Homo sapiens: one gene and its partner. The protein of the gene in region 1 interacts with the protein of each later gene in a biochemical or structural test. Each region holds a gene or a part of one and is shown in the gene's direction. Other genes may lie near its edges.

Region 1 (4,963 bases):
CCACAGGTTTGCCTATGAAGGGGTCAGGTCAGAAACGGAGCAGGTCAAAACCCCCATGCTGATGAGTAGTGGAATCTACTGCCAAATAGTTTTTCATTTGAGTTCTGGCTGCTCCATTTGTTTGTGTTGGCAACTTAAAAAAAACTAGGCCAAATAAAACATCTGTGGACCATCAGTTGTCACCTCTGGCCTAGCGCATCTTCGGTTCTTATGGGAGAAAGTTCTTTATGAGGTAAGTCCAAAAGCATAGAGTTCGCTTGCTTAAGACCTTGCAGTATCCCTCAATCTTTGGATAATGATCGAACTTCATGACGGGCTGCTCTTCTTTTTTTCTGCCTCTTTTCCCTGATCTTTACGTCCATTTTTCGTATCTCCATCCCTGCCACTTTAAAGGTCTTGGTGGGCTGCCACACTCTAGCAAGTCAGCATGCCTTGAAATATGCTGACCCCCCCTGCCGATGGCTTCCCCTTTCTTTACTAGGCCAATTGGGTACTTTCTCTCCCCACTAAATTACTAGACCCAGTGCTTGGGATACAAACCTGGATTCTCTCTACCCCAGGGACTTCACGGTGCCTGCCACAGGGCAGGTGCTCAGTACATGCTTGTGCCACAAACTTGGGTACTCTCTGATGTTGAATTTTTTTAAGGTAATCCATGCAGATAGGAAAGTGAAAAAAAATTACACACGAGAAAAGGGAAATTTTACCCTCAATCTTCCCACTTTTCCCCAGAGGCAACCGCTGGTACCACTTCCTTGTGTATTCTTCCTGAGATATATATGGAATGTATAAGGATATATATTCAATCAATGCTATGGAGAAAAAAAAACAGCCCTCTGGGGGTCCGCGAGTGCTGGAGACGGTCGCGCACGGCTCTCAGGAGCTGCAATCTGAGAGCTGCCCTACTCTGGGCCCAGAAACGACCCTCGTGCACCTGCAGTCCTCCAGGGAAATCTGAAGAAAGTTCCACAGCTTGGATCCCCAGCACTTTGGGAGGCCGAGGCGGGAGGATCGCTTGAGCCCAGGAGTCGGAGACCATGCTGTGCAACATAGTGAAACCCCCTCTCTACAAAAAATACAAAAGTTAGCTGGGCAAAATGGTGCCCTGTGGTCCCAGCTACTCGGGAGGCCGGAGTGGGAGGTTCGCTGGAGCCGAAGGGGTCGAGGCTGCAATGAGCCGTGATCGCACCACTGCACTCCAGCCTGGACGACACAACGAGACCCTGTCTCAAATAAAAGGAAGGAAGGAAGGAAGTTACACAGAAAGGCCGCGTCGGCTCTCCTTCCCACGCCCTCCTGCAGCGCCTGCGCACCAGGGCCCGCTTCACGCAGGCCTGCGAAGCTGGAGCCCCTGGATAGCCTTTCTTGCCGACAGAGGCGGGAGAAATTTGCTACTTCCTGTATACCTTATCCTTCTCCCTTCCCAGTCTAAGATACGAACTATAAATGTTCGAACCCAATTCACCCCGGAGGGGAGGGGCCAGATACCAGTGGCCTGAAGGCGCCCAGGTATCCAGAAGAATTGTGGGTGGGGACCCGCGGTCCCGTGACGTGCGTCCGCCAATCAGCGCGCAGACCGCACTTTGCGGCTCGGCTTCAAACTACCGTGAGGCCGGAGCGCCACTGGGACCCCGCCCCCTTCGCCTGGGTCTGGGGCCCCGCGAGACGGCGGAAAGGGGTGGGGGCGCCCGGGGGGGGGGGGGGGGCCCCCGGAAGGGGGCGGGGTCCGGGATCAATTAAGGGCCCGCCTCACCTATTCCGGGCGCGGGCTGAGTCCCGTAGCCAATGGGCGGGGGTGGGGGGCGGCCCGGCCGGCGGGGAGGGGGAGCCCGCGGCCGGGGACGCGGGGGGAGGAGGAGGCGGGCTCCCAATCCGGTTCCATCCGGTTCTCCCACCGCCCCCGCTGTGGGTCTCAGCAGCTCGGGCGGCGGGAGGAGTGGCAGCGGCAAGGCAGCCCAGTTTCGCGAAGGCTGTCGGCGCGCCGCGGCCCGCAGGCACCCGGCACGCGCCTTCCCCGCAGGCACCCGGCACGCGCCTTCCCCGCCGCCACGATGCCCAAGAGGAAGGTGAGCGGCGGCCGCGGCCCGCACACGCCCCCTGGAGCCGCCGCCGGCGCCCCGCCGGGCCCCGCGAGGCCCAGGCCCCGTTGCACCCACGGTGGCGACGGGCCCGGGAGGCGCTTGGAGACCGGCGGGCGGGCAGGCGAGCGCTCGGCGGCCGCGGGGGCGGGCGTTCTGGAACGTTTGGCGGCCGGGGGAGCTGAGGGGGCTATTCGAACGGGGCGGCGGGAAGCCGTGACGTCACGCGGCCGGGCATTGTTCTCGGGGCCGGGCGGGCCCGCGAGTCCTGGGACTGCGGCCCGCCTCTATTCGTGCGTCTCCGTCTCCGCAGGTCAGCTCCGCCGAAGGCGCCGCCAAGGAAGAGGTGAGTGCGGGCCTTCTGCGGGGGGTGGTGGGTTTCCCGTGAGCCGCTGGCCTGCCTTCTCTTCTCGCTGACTCTCCTTTTTCTTTCTCCAAGCCCAAGAGGAGATCGGCGCGGTTGTCAGCTGTAAGTAAAGCGAGCCCCGTAACCGTTCGTTTTCCGCGGGTCGTCCCGGGTGAGGACGCTCAGTGCTGCTTTTGCCTTTCAGAAACCTCCTGCAAAAGTGGAAGCGAAGCCGAAAAAGGCAGCAGCGAAGGTAAGCCTCGAAACGCGCATTGGGATGCAGCGGGGCCTTAGGCTACACTGCTTCTTAATGCGGGGCTTCCATTTTGATTAGCTATTGGAGCTTTATTTATACTTTAATAATTACGGTAAATAATTTTTCTAGTGGTCGAGGCAAAAATGTAATGGATATATTCATCCTGGTTTATAGAACTATATCACACTAATGCTGCTGCAGATGTTAGGAGACTTAGGACGACAAAAAATATTAAATATTAAGTCTACAAAGGAAATTTATTCTTTGCGTTGCGTACATTGTGGCTGGTGCTTGGCTTTTAATTCGTGCTTGTACTTCCTTTTTTGACAATAAAAGAGTCAAGATAGCACCGAGGCCAGGAGAAAGGGAACGTGTAAGTTTTTATATATACAGTTTCCAAGCCAACTTCGGGAAGCCTTAACCTTTTTACGGGGTGGGGGTGGGGAGGTAAAAAGTTGTGATCTCTGAGAAAATAACCGCCACTACTCTGGAAGTGTTCATCAGCAGTTATACAAAACCGTGATTTTGGCTGCTCCCTAACAAATTCGTGATTGCATGATTCGAATTGCAGGTCTGTAGAATGAAGTTGGCTTTGGGTGTACGTGTGTTTGATAACTTGCAGGGTGGAAAAGCAGAACATGTGTAAAACAAGTATAAGCTTTGTGTTTGGATATAGCATTGAAACCTGTAAAGCTCTACATGTTCTTCGCGGGGTGATTAATTTTTATCCAAAACTTAGGTGAGAGTTTGCTATTTGAAGTCTCAAAAAAAATTTTTGTTAATGCCTTCACCTCTTTCCTAAAAGTGTAGGTAGAAGTTTAGCACTGCAGTCATCAGAAGAGGCAAGATTAATTTCCTTGACATTGAGGAGTTGTTGGATAATTACTAAATTTGTCCTTGTTAAATAAAGGTATAAAACAAAGATGTTTTTTCTTTTTTAATTTAAATTTTTTACAGAGCTGAGTGTAAAAATGTTAACTATGTTTTCTTTAACAGAAAGTTCTGTTTTTGTGATCCTTTTAAAAATAAAGCTTCACGGAAGGTATGAGAATAGTATTTTTCAACTTTAAATTTCTCATTACCAGAAGACCATGTGGTAATTCTCTGTATACAGTTAGAACAGCACGGAAACTTGAAGGCCTAAAAAATTAGCTGACCTTGTTAAAAATGTTGGCGTGAGCAGTATATTATTACCTATCTTTTTTTATTGTGTGTGTGTGTGTGTGTGTGTTTTAAACTAATTGGCTGAAATATCTGCCTGTTTCCCTCTTTACATTTTTCTTGTTTCTTTCCTTATTTATCTTTGTCCATCTTGAGATCTACTGTAAAGTGAATTTTTTAATGAAAACAGTTCCAAGTTTTACTCTCAGTGGGTTTGGGACATCAGATGTAATTGAGAGGCCAACAGGTAAGTCTTCATGTCAGTGTTTGTTGAGGAACGAGCCTATGAGGTCAGTTTTCCCAAAAGGAAAAAGGGCAGAAGGGATTTGTTCATTTTTACATCTCGTTTCTGTAATACACCTTTGACTTCATGGTTGATCAGACTTTGAAGTCTAAACAGAACGTAAGCACTTGGTGTATCGATTATCATACTACACAGTAGACATGTTTTCAAGGCATATCTTGTCACTGTGTGTGCTTCTGACTTGTATCTTTCCCTAGAACTAAATATTTTGAAGGTCCAAACATTATACTTTGGGAAACTTGATTGATTTTTTTTTAATCTAGCTTTTCAGCTGATAATGGTTACACGTGGTATTATTTCAAGTCCAAGATATTATGTATTCTATTTTAACTGTTTCCCAGTTTTGTATTTTTTGTATTGGAATGATTATGAAATTAATGAGAAATCTTTAGAAACAGACTACAAAAGAGTAGTTCTTAAATACAGAAGTGATTGTGAAACTTTGTGATAGCAATGTGTGTAGTAGCAGTTTTGTCTCAAATACATTTATCATTTGTTACTCAAAGGATGTTGAAGTATTAAAAGTCATTATGCTGTCTGTGGAATCCTACTATTAGTACAGAACACCCTGCAGTGATTTTTCCGCCCGTGTTAGCATTGAAGTTGTGAGCTCTACTTGCTTGTCTTTATGGCCCTTTAATTCAAGTAATTGGTCAGTATCCGTATGGGTCTTTTATACCACCCGCTGGGGGCTAAACTAATTTAGCTGCTGCTGTATACTTACTAACAAGGAATAAATGTTAAGCTTTCTTCTCAGTATTGATGGATGGTATCTAAAAGTATTTTTATGTTTCTTTAACATGGCTTAAATTTTGAAC
Region 2 (4,217 bases), on another chromosome or scaffold:
AGTGTTTATGATGTAGGACAGAATCTTTGTACAGAATTGACTGGGGAGAGCAGCTCAGAACCCACCCTGTGATGGCTGAGTGCTGGCAGTCTTCTGGAGGGTGTGTGGGGCGGCTGACATGGTGGCCTGGGGGAGTGATGGAAGGCCCATCATCTATGTACTTTGACTTCTCATAAACTCCTGTGGCATGTTTTTAATAATTGATAGAATAAGTAAACAGAAAGTCAATAAGAATATAGAAGACCTGAACACTACTACTAGCCAACTTGACCTAAGTGACATTTGTAGAACACTGTATCCTCAAACAGCAGAATACACCAGAATATACATTCTTCTCAAGTGCATATGGGCCATCTACCAAGATAGATCATATTCTGGGCCATAAAATGAGCCCCAAGAAGTGTAAAACATTTTAGGTCACACAGAGTATGTTTTCTAACAATGGAATTAAATCAGAAATCAATAGGAAAATTCTTGAAAAATCCCCAAGTATTTGGAAACGAAATAATATACTTTTAAATAGCTTATCTGTCAAAGAAGATGAAAAGGGAGCTTAGAAAATATTTTGAGCTGGATGAAAAGGAAAATACAACATACCAAAATTTGTGGGATGCTGCAAAAAATAATACTTAGGAGGAAATTTATAGCACTAAGTGATTGTAATAGAAGAAAGATTTCAAATCAGTGACCTTAGTTCCCACCTTAGGAAATAAGAGCAATTAAACCCAAAGCAAACAGAAGAAAGGAAATCATATGTATGTGTTAAAATAAAACATTACATGCAGTAAAACTGAATTTTGGGGGGAAGTATACAGTTCTTTGAGGTGTTTGTTTGTTTGTTTGTTTGTTTTTGAGATGGAGTTTCACTCTTATTGCCCAGGCTGGTGTGCAGTGGCACGATCTCTGCTCACTGCAACCTCTGCCTCCCAGGTTCAAGCAATTCTCCTGCCTCAGCCTCCCGAGTAGCTGGGATTACAGGCATGCGCCACCACGCCTGGCTAATTTTTTTGTATTTTTAGTAGAGACGGGGTTTCACTATGGTGGTCAGGCTGGTTTCGAACTCCTGACCTTGTGATCCGCCCGCCTCGGCCTCCCAAAGTGTTGGGATTACAGGCTTTAGCCACTGCGCCCGGCCAGTTCTATGAGTTTTAAAACAAATGTAGACCACCACCCAATACATTGTAACCACCAGCACAATCAGGATACAAACATGTCCCACCACTTCCCACATTCCCTCAGGCTGTCCCTTCATAGTCCAACCGTCCCCTAACCCCAAGCCCTGGCAATCACTGATCTGTTCTCTCACACTATAGTTTTGCCTTTTCTGGAATGTCATAGAAATGGATTCATACAGTAAGTCTCCTTTAGAGTTGGCTTCTCTCACTTGCATAATGCCTTTTGGATTTATCCATATTGTTGAGTGCAGCGGCGTGATCTTGGCTCACTGAAGCCTTGACCTCCCAGGCTCAAGAAATCCTCCCATCTCAGCCTCCCATGTAGCTGGGAATATAAGCGGAGGCCGGGCGGGGGTCGCAGCGCCGCAGCCAGCGCAGCCAGCCCCAGGGGGCGCCATCTCCGCCGCTGCCGCCGCCGCCGCCGCCGCCGCGAGACCCCCGCCCCTGCCGCCGCCACCGCCATGGGCAACGCCCCCGCCAAGAAGGACACCGAGCAGGAGGAGAGCGTGAACGAGTTCCTAGCCAAAGCCAGAGGAGATTTCCTCTACAGATGGGGAAACCCCGCTCAAAACACCGCCAGCTCGGATCAGTTCGAACGGCTCAGGACGCTGGGCATGGGCTCCTTCGGGCGGGTGATGCTGGTGAGGCACCAGGAGACCGGCGGCCACTACGCCATGAAGATCCTCAACAAGCAGAAGGTGGTGAAGATGAAGCAGGTCGAGCACATACTGAACGAGAAGCGCATCCTGCAGGCGATCGACTTTCCGTTCCTCGTCAAGCTCCAGTTCTCCTTTAAGGACAACTCCTACCTGTACCTGGTGATGGAGTACGTGCCGGGTGGGGAGATGTTCTCCCGCCTACAGCGCGTCGGAAGGTTTAGCGAGCCCCATGCCTGTTTCTATGCCGCCCAGGTCGTCCTGGCCGTCCAGTACCTACACTCGCTCGACCTCATCCACCGCGACCTGAAGCCCGAGAATCTCCTCATCGACCAGCAGGGCTACCTGCAGGTGACGGACTTCGGTTTCGCCAAGCGCGTGAAGGGCCGCACTTGGACCTTGTGCGGGACCCCAGAGTACCTGGCCCCCGAGATCATCCTGAGCAAAGGCTACAACAAGGCCGTGGACTGGTGGGCCCTAGGGGTGCTCATCTATGAGATGGCCGTGGGCTTCCCACCCTTCTACGCCGACCAGCCCATCCAGATCTACGAGAAGATCGTCTCTGGGAGGGTGCGGTTTCCCTCCAAACTCAGCTCTGACCTCAAGCATCTGCTGCGGAGCCTGCTGCAGGTGGACCTCACCAAGCGCTTCGGAAACCTCAGGAACGGGGTTGGCGACATCAAGAACCACAAGTGGTTCGCCACAACCAGCTGGATCGCCATCTATGAGAAGAAGGTGGAAGCTCCCTTCATCCCGAAGTACACAGGCCCTGGGGATGCCAGTAACTTTGACGACTACGAGGAGGAAGAGCTCCGGATCTCCATCAATGAGAAGTGTGCCAAGGAGTTTTCTGAGTTTTAGGGGTGTGCTTGTGCCCCTGTGGGTTTTCTTTCCTTTTTGTTTTTGGTGGTTTGGGGGATGGGAGGGTTGGATTGAACAGCCAGAGGGCCCCAGAGTTCCTTGTATCTAATTTCATCCTCACCCCACCCTCCAGGGTTGGGGGAGCAGGAAGCCCAGATATTTGGAGGAACAGAAACACCAGCTGCTCCCTCACCCCCCCCCATGCCTTCCTGGTCCCTCTGTGCTTCTCTCTTTCTCCTCCCACAGGGTCCCCCTTGCCCCAGCCCCCTTCTGCCTGTTTTAAACGAGTTTCTCAGCTCTATTCAGGCCAGGTCTTGCTGTTGTATCAAGGGACACGGTGTGGAAAGAGGGGCTCAAACTTAACTCCAGCCCTGAACAGGCACCACTTACTAAGAGAGGATGAATGAAAAGCACACCTACCCTTTGGCGTAATCCTGCCTGGGAAGGAGAGAGGTTTAGTGCCATGTTCAGTGGGCTGTTTGCTAGAATAAAAAATTAAAACAAAAAACAATTAAAATCTTATTTAAGTTCCACCAGTGTCCCCTTTCCTCCTTCCTCTACTTCCACCCCTCCCACCCTTCCCACCTTACCGTGTCTCCCCATTCCATTTTAACAAATCCAGGAAGCCGACTGACTTTGGAAGGAGGCTCTGGGGTTTGAACTTCCCCCATGAACTGCTGATTTCCCCCTCCCCCCTCCCCAGGGGCATCCTCTATCACTCTTGCAAAGGTCTCAGTTCTTTTAGGAAGCTCCACTCTCTTCTTCCCCAGCAGACTTTTCTTCACCCTTGGGCTTTGGGAGCCAGAAAAGCAGCTGCCCTACTCCCTGCCAAAGAGGAGTTGTCCCCCAAAAAGACAGAGTGGGAGTTCCAAGCCCAAGTCTTTCTTCACAGCAGCATTTCCCCGAAACTCCTTAATTTTATTCTCAGCCAGATTGTGATGCCCAGCCTCTCCTTATGGGAAGGCAGTCCTGCAAAAGGACATGGAAGAGGCCCAGCCCCTCCACCCCCACCTCATCGCCCAGGGTTCAAGGCTAGGGTTGCTGGGGAGGGGCTGCCTGTTTTATTCACCCAGCAGCTTCTGCCTTCTCCCATCCTGGGTGCCCCTCTCCAGCTTAGCTGTCAGCCATCCTTCACCTCTTCTCCCCTGCCACCCCGTGCTGTTTTCAATTTTTTTTTTTTTTTGACATGAAGTCTCACTCTGTCACCCAGGCTGGAGTGCAGTGGTACAATCTCAGCTCACTGCAACCTCCGCCTCCCGGGTTCAAGCGACTCTCCTGCCTCAGCCTCCCGAGTAGCTGGGATTACAGGGGCCCACTACCATCCCCGGCTAATTATTGTATTTTTAGTAGAGACGAGGTTTTGCCACATTGGCCAGGCTGGCCTTGAACTCCTGACCTCAGGTGATCCAGCTGCCTTGGCCTCCCAAAGTGCTGGGATTATAGGAGTGAGCCACCGTCCCTGGTCTGTTTTCTTTCTTAATAGAAAAGTGAGGAGCTGCTGGCAAGCCACCTCATTCATCTTCAT

The links.
Region 2: of the proteins of HMGN1 (region 1) and PRKACG, one has a biochemical effect on the other in vitro, tested with the Homo sapiens proteins (one study listed by BioGRID).

Annotation. Positions count from the first base shown.
Region 1 is NC_000021.9:39,346,006-39,350,968, reverse strand, and holds the start of HMGN1 (non-histone chromosomal protein HMG-14), read left to right. Parts: upstream 1-1,880; 5' UTR 1,881-2,051; coding exon 2,052-2,066; intron 2,067-2,363; exon of another isoform or gene 2,364-2,391; coding exon 2,392-2,424; intron 2,425-2,515; exon of another isoform or gene 2,516-2,517; coding exon 2,518-2,547; intron 2,548-2,629; coding exon 2,630-2,677; intron 2,678-3,026; exon of another isoform or gene 3,027-3,590; intron 3,591-3,676; exon of another isoform or gene 3,677-4,963. UniProt on the Homo sapiens protein: Binds to the inner side of the nucleosomal DNA thus altering the interaction between the DNA and the histone octamer. May be involved in the process which maintains transcribable genes in a unique chromatin conformation.
Region 2 is NC_000009.12:69,011,512-69,015,728, reverse strand, and holds PRKACG (cAMP-dependent protein kinase catalytic subunit gamma), read left to right. Parts: upstream 1-1,615; 5' UTR 1,616-1,636; coding exon 1,637-2,692; 3' UTR 2,693-3,225; downstream 3,226-4,217. UniProt on the Homo sapiens protein: Phosphorylates a large number of substrates in the cytoplasm and the nucleus.